2 linked regions of the Homo sapiens genome follow. The protein of the gene in region 2 interacts with the protein of the main gene of each other region in a pairwise test. Each region holds a gene or a part of one and is shown on either strand. Other genes may lie near its edges.

What was found. Proteins that work in one complex are often made in the same cells at the same time.
Region 1: the proteins of PRMT8 (region 2) and GPATCH2L interact in a two-hybrid assay, tested with the Homo sapiens proteins (one large-scale study listed by BioGRID and IntAct).

Annotation. Positions count from the first base shown.
Region 1 is NC_000014.9:76,154,383-76,159,274, forward strand, and holds part of GPATCH2L (G patch domain-containing protein 2-like), read left to right. Parts: coding exon 1-643; intron 644-4,892.
Region 2 is NC_000012.12:3,535,474-3,540,365, reverse strand, and holds part of PRMT8 (protein arginine N-methyltransferase 8), read right to left. Parts: intron 1-4,892. UniProt on the Homo sapiens protein: S-adenosyl-L-methionine-dependent and membrane-associated arginine methyltransferase that can both catalyze the formation of omega-N monomethylarginine (MMA) and asymmetrical dimethylarginine (aDMA) in proteins such as NIFK, myelin basic protein, histone H4, H2A and H2A/H2B dimer.

The DNA.
Region 1 (4,892 bases), on a different chromosome or scaffold from region 2:
ACTTAGCCTCAGCCTTGGAGCAGACATCTGAGCAGAATAAGCTTGGTGAACTGTGGGAGGAGATGGCGCTGAGCCCCCGACAGCAGAGGCGGCAGCTTCGGAAACGCCGAGGTCGGAAGCGTCGTTCTGACTTCACTCACCTGGCAGAGCATACCTGCTGCTACAGCGAGGCCTCTGAGTCAAGTCTGGATGAGGCCACTAAGGACTGTCGAGAAGTGGCTCCGGTGACCAATTTTAGTGACTCTGATGACACAATGGTAGCCAAACGACACCCAGCTCTCAATGCCATTGTCAAGAGTAAGCAACATTCTTGGCATGAATCTGACTCCTTTACTGAAAATGCACCTTGTCGACCACTCAGGCGCAGGCGGAAGGTGAAGCGAGTGACATCAGAGGTGGCTGCTAGCCTTCAGCAGAAGCTGAAGGTGTCAGATTGGAGCTATGAGAGAGGCTGCAGGTTCAAGTCTGCTAAGAAGCAGCGTCTGTCCCGCTGGAAGGAGAATACTCCCTGGACCTCATCAGGCCACGGATTGTGTGAATCAGCAGAAAATAGGACTTTCCTAAGCAAAACAGGAAGGAAAGAAAGGATGGAGTGTGAAACAGATGAACAAAAACAGGGCTCTGATGAGAACATGTCAGAATGGTGAGATCTCCCTTACTAAGTCAAAGATTTTCCTGGTTAATTTTTCCCAAAGTGCACATCCATGGTCTTAGTGGGTTCTACCTTCTTTCAAACCAGCCACTCTAGTATTGACTTTGAAGCCTTCCTTGAATCAATCAGTAGTTTAGCTTTTTAAGGTACCATTCATGAGTCTATTTCCCTCTGTCAGGAAGGCTATATGTAATAGAAACACAGTTGTTTCTAAAAACTGTTTAAAACGCGTACCTCAAATGCAAAACTAATAATTTTATTTTAAAAAACAATTTGCTGCTTATTATGCCATACAGTTTATACATAAATATTGTTGTTTAGAACTCAGGTCTCAGCAGAGGCTGGTGTGTGTGTGTGAGAGAGAATATGCTAGCGCCAGGTATACGGAGTTTATAAATGTTCCATTAAGTTGCCTGTCCTCATTAAGAATCATGGCTTTAGATGCTTTTTGGCTATAATTCTGTTTTCTGCTACTTGTGGTTTGATTATATTGAATTTATTTTTTTATGGCTGACATTCAAATTGTCTGAACACATGGTGGGCTTTGAAAATAACAGTACCGAGTCCCATTAGTCTTACATCAGATGTGATCAAGCCAGAAAAATTTGTCTCTAATGGGTACATGTTTAAAAATGTAAGTGTAGTTTTGGTGACTTTTTATTTTTTACATCTCAGATAGTCCTAGGAACATTGATACCCCCCAGCTTGATACTTTAATGTTATTAATATTAATCTGTGGTTATCTTTTTCTTAATAGTGAGGATGCCATTGGTGTTTTGGATGGGACAATTCTTTATGGTGCATTGCAGAATATTTAGCATCTCTGCATTATTCACACCCCCTTTTCATTGTATCAACCCAAAGGCCTCCAGGGGTGATCCCTAGGTGGATTGAGTACTCCCAGTTGAGAACCAGTGTATTCTATTATTGTTAATATTAGTTGGCATTTATTAAGCACTCAACTATGGGCCAGGCACTGTACTATGGACTTAGCATATACTCTTATTTAATGTTCACAATTCCACTATATGGTGGATACCACTATTTGTATTTACAGAAGGGAAGTTGAGGTTATAAGAGCTTAGATAATTTGCCTAAGATCACCCAGTGCCAAAACTGGGAATCAAGCCTGATTCCAAAGCTCATTCTTAACCACCATGTTGTGCTGCCCTTTGAGTTGTTCTGTCTCAATTTAACTTTCCCAACTGTAGAACATATGACCTTTCTGAAGTTTAGCTTAAAAACAAAGACATTAATCTTAGGAACACTGAGGTGAGGCTGTGTCAGTAACAGGAAAAACTGTTTAGGTCTGTATACCTGTACCTTTCTTGAGTGGTTTTTAATCCAGCTTTTAAACTTTTTCTTATTAACTTTATATTTGCCAGTCTGCAGACTATATTGAGATAGGCTCATAATTTGACTTTCCTAATTTTCCTCTAATGCCTCATTCCTTCTAAGGTCTATTTGCAGAATTTATATGTATATATTTGGATTATAAAGGTATTTTTCCCTCATCAGACTATTTTTAATCAAACAAGAAATGCTTAGTCAACTTGTAGCCTTTCACACTATTGAAACCCTCTATTGAGACATTCAAGTTTGTTTTAATATTGAGCATATATACCAAATAGAAGTCTTCTTAGTATTGAGAATGGTGATTTTAAAAGTAGCCTTTTGGGATAGTAGCTTTGTGTATGTTTCTTCCCCTTAATTTCTTGTTAAACTACGACATAATTGTATGTGAGAGAGCGACTGTTAACTCTGTCTGCTCTAACAGCCCAAGTATGGCTCCAGATGCAGAGCCTGTTTTCTAGCATGAGATGCTTCACTCTTTTCTGTTCCTTCTTACTCCAGACACATCTATTGCACATTCTAGTCAGGATGTAATAATGTAAATTCTCGTTATCTGAGAGTCTGGATAACTTAAGTGGATGGGAATTCTTATGAAATTCTTACTCTTTTCAAATTGAGGAGAACTCATTCACCCATTTGGGCTATTATCCTGGCCCCTCACTTCAGAGTTCTTTCAATATGTAGATGCTAAAGGGTTGTAGCTGTGAAGGAATAATGGGCGGAGTGGTGGCACACACGGCATTGAGGAAAGTTCTTTAAAATCTTCTAGTTATTTAGGAGTTCTAAATTCCCCTTGACTTGTCTCGATTCATTTGTAGTTACAAACAGAAGTGCTTTGTATTTTTTCCCCCTGAATCCATTCTGTGGGGAAAGGGGGTGATTCTTACTCTTTGACTGAATGTTGTGTTCAGCCTCTCTTCAAGAGGAGAGTGGAACTAAAATCTCCCTTAATTGTTAGGCACACCTTTAAAAAGGGCTGGCATTAGAGTGTAAGGAGATAATAGTATATGATTTGGATATTATACTGTCTTGATGAGTTGATTCTGTCAATAATTTTCTACTTTATTTTTTCCCTGCATTTTTAAAAGAAATACTTTCAAGAATCTTCTTGGTTACCCTTTCATAAATCTACTTGGATGTGCCACTGTTTATTCACATACAGATCAAAATGTAGAATTTTACTTTTTAGCAGTGGTATTGAGGGTTGTCAGAGTAATGATCCACATTGTAAGATTATTAAGATGAAGTTGATTGTTAAGCTTAGCTTAGCCTAGTCAATGGTAGCGTTTTTTTTTTCTAAAGCATGTATTAGATGTTTTAGATTTGAAAATGTGTGTCTCAATCAGCTTATTTCTAATTTCCTTAAACTCACTCTTTGCGACCTAAACATGGAGTATAGACTTCATCAATATTTGTTTGCTTTTCTGTTTCTGGTCTTCCTTTAATATTACACCAGCCAATCCCTCACAAGTTTTGAGGAACTAAAAATGGTTATAGTATAGTAGTTTTTTTCTGCTTGCATAGAGATCAAACTATTATTTTAATATTTTTCTGTGTATGTGTGTTTGTGAGTATTCTAAAGCAGAACAACTACTGTAAAATTATTTTCTACTGATCTTTATTTAAATTGTCTGTATAGCAACTATTAATAGCTATTAGCTATTAGGTGACTGTAGCCTAATTTTGCTCTATTCTTTACTAACACATCATTTGTTTGTTCCCCTTGAATATAGTTTAGCTTCTTTTTTTTTTCATAAGTGAATTGGTTGGGTGATGGCCAGAGGTCACATTCAGGAGCCTTCCTAAGGTGATGTATTAGAGGCTGATCTCACAGGAAAGAAAATATTCTCCTCTCTTGGAAGGCAAGTGACAGAGATAGAGTGCTAAACCTACCCACTCCTTCTCCAGCCCAGGCTGACCTTCTGCGGCCCTTTGGTGCCTCTTGTTTTCTTATTTTTATAGAAAATCAATATCCCTTCTGATACAAACAATAGCTCAGAAGCAAGAATAAGTGGGAGAAAGCTGAGATCTCTGTCCATCACCTCTCACTTTAACTCCCCCAAACTCTTTAATTATGAGTGTGCTTTGCTCCAGGTGTTTGTGACAGTGAAATTGCTAAATGAGGACCATTTTAACCAAAGATTGGGTGATCAATAACACTCTATAGCAGTAGCTTGTTGGATCAATAGCATTCATTATTTCATGGTTAAGGTAAGTAGCCTCCTTTGCAAGTGGAGGTCATTAATCAGGGTTTCCTGGAGCTGTGTAAAAGAATATGTATGGTAGGTGGGGGTGTTCTGTTTTCTATTCTGTAAGTAGGGATGCTGACCAAGAATATATTTACCATTGTTGCAGTTGGTAGTATTGCATGTGAGATTCTCGAATAGCTAGCATAGTGTGCTTATGTGGGTATATTCACAGTTCTGCTAGTATCCTTAGGGACAACTAAAACACACAGCTTGGGAGGTCGATATGATACTATTGTACTTGAAGGTCTATCTCTTGAAAGAAACATCCATCTCGTAAAAGAGTCTACCTCTTAAAAGAAATATTGGGATTGTTCTGTGTGGCTCCACAGGACAGAACTCAGGGATAGAGAGTACAGAGTGTTAAATGTTGCTGCGGTTAAAAAATAAGATTCTAAAAATTAGGACTCTGTAAAAATGAAGTGAATTGTTTCACCATGTAATGCGTAATAACTTCTAGATCAGGTGGGGGGATTCAAACATGGGCTTGATGACCGCTTACTTAGTTGCTGTGGAGTTGAGAAGGTTGAACTGAAGGCTTCTGAGATCCCTTGTAACACTGAGATGCTGCGATTCTTTTCAGTCACAGTCTACTTCCCACCATTGTAATGTCTTAACTGGTAAGTAGCCTCAACTGCCCA
Region 2 (4,892 bases):
CTCTTATTAGCTAGGTGACCTGAGCAATGCAGGCCTCAGTTTCTGTATCTGTGAAATGGGGAAAATAGTATCTTCCTTTGAAGGCAAATAGGAAACATTCAATAAAGGGAAAGATGCATAGCACAGCATGGTGCCTGAGAGTGTAGATTCCGGAGCTGAATCCCAGCTCTGCCATTTCCCAGCTATACAACTTTGGGCAAACTTATGAACTTCTCAGTGCCTCAGTTTCCTTTTCTCTAAAATGGGAATAAAATGGTCCCTGCCTCCTAGAGTTGTCCTGAGGATTAGACAAGTTTGTATTTCAAAGTGCTTAGAAAAGGGCCAGGCATATAGTAAGAGTTTGTTAGAGGAAACGAAGTCCCACCTGCATCCTCAGGAACGTGAACCCATGGGCTTCTCTCCACTCAACAGGCAGCATCAAGCTAGAAGAGGATACGGCCCCCAAAATGCAGATGTCTTAGGTTCTGGTGTCTCCTACCTGTTGTCTTGCCCCCTAGTTTCTGATTCACAGTTCTACCCTGAATTCAGCACTGTGGATACCCACACTGATGGCCTCCACACAACCAATTATTGCTATTTCTGGGTGCCCCAATCCTGAGGCCCAGCCCAGCTCTACACCCACTGCTGCTGCCCATCACTGTCTGCTCCCTGGTCCTCCACAGGCTAGGCGGAGCAGGGAGAAGGAGATGGGGGTCCACAGAGCTTCTGGAGCCCAGAGACAGCAATTGGAGCCCAGAAGCTCAAACACTGCAACAGAAGCAGTTATGCCAGGAGACCTCCTCTGCCTGGAGTGCAGGAGACCCAGATGTACAAGGCACAGTAAAGGCCTCAAAGCAGGGCTGAACTAGAAAAATAAAAAAAGGAGTATTATCTAGTAGTCAGTCCTCTAGGGCTGGGAATCCAGGCTCCTGGGTCCTATCCTGGCTCTAGTAAAATTAAAAATAGATACTAGGAGGCAGATAGCGAACTGGCTGAAAGTACAAACCCTGGAGCCACAGTGCCTGACTCTGAAACCCAGCGCTTGTTGGCTGTGTGACCTTGGGAAATAATTTGTCATCACTGTGCCTCAGCTTTTCCTCCTCTATAGAACACAAATCATAATAAAACCTACCTGAAAAATTTGTCCAAAAGTTTGGAGGAGTTGATATATGGAAAGACTTTAGAACAGGCTGGCACATAGTAAGTGCTTATGATTATTACATACATCATGTCCTTGTTCTATGTCTCGATTTTCTTGTCTGTGAGCTGGGTCAGCTCAGACTTACTGTCTCCTTTCTAGCAAGAGAAACAGGGGAATCCTAGGACACAGCAAGATCAAGAAAGCCAAGTTATTTCAACCCCTCCGTGGAATCACTCCGCGCAGTCCCAAGACTGTTCTGTGTCCAGGGCTGCAGGGGAGTGAGCTGGGGGCAGTGGGATGGTCCCATCTTCCCAGTGTACCTAGGCTACCGCCCTTGGGAAATAAGCAGACTTCCCAGTTTAGCAACATCAGATTTCACGTCGGTGAGATCCCGGGCGGGCTGGCAAAGGCGAGTGGGGCTGCCTCATTAGAATGCAGCAGGTGTGCCCACTCTCAGCTTGGGATGTTGGTCACGGTCTCTGGGAGGCTAAAAATAGACTGTGTCAAGTGCACACTCCTGTGCAGGCTGCAGAATCACCTCTAAAGCTGAAGAAGGCTCCGTGCATGAAGCTGACCCCAATATCGACTCCATTTAAATATGTGAAGGAGAGGAAAAAGTCGGAGCTGGTCTGGGCATTGTGCATGGTCAAGGTCACAGGGGCCTCCAGCACCCCTTAGCTGTCACTCCACTCTGGTTCCAAGGCTCTCTTTTCCATGTGCTTCCTGGGACTCCACAGGCTAAGACTCCCCGGAGGCTGGGAGTGGGTGGGAAACGGCAGTGGCCTGTGATCCCTGAACATTCAGCGACATGGGGTGTTGCTTTTAATTCCACAACTGCCTACTGCACAGATCTCCAACAGCAAGGCAGCGTGCAGGTCCTGTGGAAGAAATAGACGTGTGGGAACTGTGCCCTCCCAGGACCCTGTTTTCTAGATTCTAAGACCCTTATTGTCTCTGATAGATGCTGGAATAAGGTTTGTTCTACAAGAGAAGTTCAAGCAAATTGTTCTGGAGGTTCACAGGAAAGAGAATTCACTTTAATGCAGAGAGTCAGGAAGCCCTGGGATAGCAGGAGGTGGGGTGAGGTGGGAGCTTTTTGAACGGATTTTGGCAGGTGGAGGAAGAGACGGCTTGAGCAACCAAAAGGCGGGAGAGCAGTGAGTTTGTTTGGGAGCAGCTTGGCTGAGACAGTGAGAGATTCAGTTGAAAGGAAATTATGGCCAGGCTAAGAGGTCGTAATTAAATACAAAAGACAACGGGGAGCTATTGCCGGTTTGTAACCAGGGAAGCAGTGACTTCTGTGTTTGGGCTCCTCTTTAGGAAGATAGATGTGGTAGCAGCACACAGGAGGGGCCAAGGAAAAGAAGGGAATGGAAGAGAGGCAAAGTATGAACTTTGGAGGCTATGTTCAAAGTCCAGTCAAGAAATAATGAGAGCCTGAACTACTGGGGTGTCCGAGGGGCTGCCTGCCAGAGAAAGTGCAGAAATAGACTCTACAGGCTTTGGCAACTGACAAAATGTAGGGGAAGAGAGAGGAGCTGGAATCAAAGATGACTTCAACATTTCAAGCCTGGGTGACTAGGGAAATGGTGGTGACATTAACAAAAATAAGCCAGTCAGCAGGCAGAGCAGGTTGGGGTGGGGGGAAATAATGAATTTCAATTTGGATATGCAGAGTTTGAAATGTCATTGAGTCATATAAGAGAAGATGTCTAGCAAGAAGACATTAATGCAGTTCCAGACAATAAATATCATAAACAAAATTAAAAGGCAAATGATAAACCGAGAAGTACGTTTTAACATATGTGGCAGACAAAGGTTAATGCCCTTAATACGTAGAGAGCTCTTACAAGCCAATACAAAAATAGATGAACACCCACAATGTAATATTGGGGAAAGGATTGGATAATCTGTCCACATGAGGCAAGTACATGTGAAATACAAATGGCAGGTTGATGTGCAACAAAAATGTTTAACCTCATTAGAAATCAGGTAAATTCAAATTCAAATAGAAAACTTACAGCTTTTAAATACCAGATAAGCTCTTCTCCCACCAAAACAACCACAGCTCTGCATATGTAAGAGTTGCAGAGAGATAGGTCCTTTCACACATTTCTAGTGGGAATGAAAATAGGTCAAGACTTTTAGAAAGGCCGTTTGGTAAAATGTACTTGAAGTGTTAAAGAGCACAAATCCGTTAACCCAGCAATTGAAGTTCTGTGGACTTTACCATAAGAAGAGAATCATGGATCATCATAATGATGTAGCTGTTGAGAATTTCATGACAATGCTGTCCTTAGTGACAAAAGGTAGGAGTCAACTGAAATGTTCCACAAAGTGAGACATTAAACTGTGGTGTAGCCACACAATAGAACACTATGCGGCCATTAAAGGTATTATGGGAAGAGTGTTTGATTACACAAAAATATGATCATGACAGATTGTTCCACCACTTCCAGGCTGCCCTTCCTCCAAGGATGTGTGGCCCGAGCATTGCACTCCGGTGTCCAAGCAAGGGCTCCGAAACAAAGTCAACCTCCATCCAGCCTGGCTGGGGCCCTCCACACCTCAGCCACCAGGGAGGACCCTGCTCAGGAAGCTGTGCAGATCACCTCACCTCTAGGGCTGAAGAAGGCTGTGTGCATGAAGCTGACCCCAGTATTGACTCCATTTAAATATATTAAGGAGAGGAAAAAGTCCTAGCTGGCCTGGGCATTGTGCACGGTCAAGGTCACAGGGGCCTCCAGCACCCATAAGCTGTCATTCAACTCTGATTCCAAGGTTCTCTTTTCCATGGGGCTCCCTGAGACTCTCCCCAACAGCCAGCTTATGAAGTGTCTGCCGTGTGCCATGCAGGAGGCAAAAGGATGCATGGATTTGGGGGCATTCATTTCAATAGCCACAGGTCATGGGGACAAATAAATGACTGGCCCAGACCCTGGTCTGCAGCCTGGCACTCTGCCCATTGGCTGACAGGCATACCCTCTCCCTGAAGGCTGGGAGTGGGTGGGAAGCAGCCGTGGCCTGTGATCCCTGAACATTCAGCTACATGGGGTGATGCTTTTAAATTCTACAACTACCTGCTGAACTTCTACAACAGCAAGGCACTGTGCCAGCCCTGTGAAAGAAACAAGAGACATATGGGTATTCTATGGATCCTATGCAGGCAAATTGGAACACTTATAGGAATCCAGATGCATCTCCAAGAGATATACATGATTGTTCAGCCACAACTGAAGGCTCTTGAGACTTGAGGAGCACAGGGGATAGGTCTTGGGGGATGACAGTGGTCTCCTCTGTAAAGTCAGAAGGCTCAACTCCTCCCTAAGCCACACCAGGCAAGCAGAGTCTCTGAGTGAAGGTGACTTTCAAACTCCAATCTTGTATACATAGTCTGAGAAGTCAGCAAAAGGATTTGGAATCACACTCGGATGGGCAGCTGGACTCTCAACATCAGCGTCTTGGTCTGCTCATGGCTGCAGCTTTCTCACCTCCAATTTGCTCCCTGTGCCCAAGTCCCTCCCCACTGGACATTCCAGTGCCCCCAGTCCCTTCCAGGGTTCCTGTGCCCACATCACCCTGGAGGTCTGGCCCTGCCTGCTCTGCCCTGGAGTCGGTTCTGGTACCTGTTTCTGCACCATCGCCTCCAGCCTTGTCCTGTTGGGTTCTTGGGCCCCAGGGCAGAGAAAGCACCCTGCCTTGCTCTTTCCCCACCTCCGTCCAAAGGCCCAGGCCCAGGGCCCTGTTACTTGCTGGAGGTCTCCCGATGTTG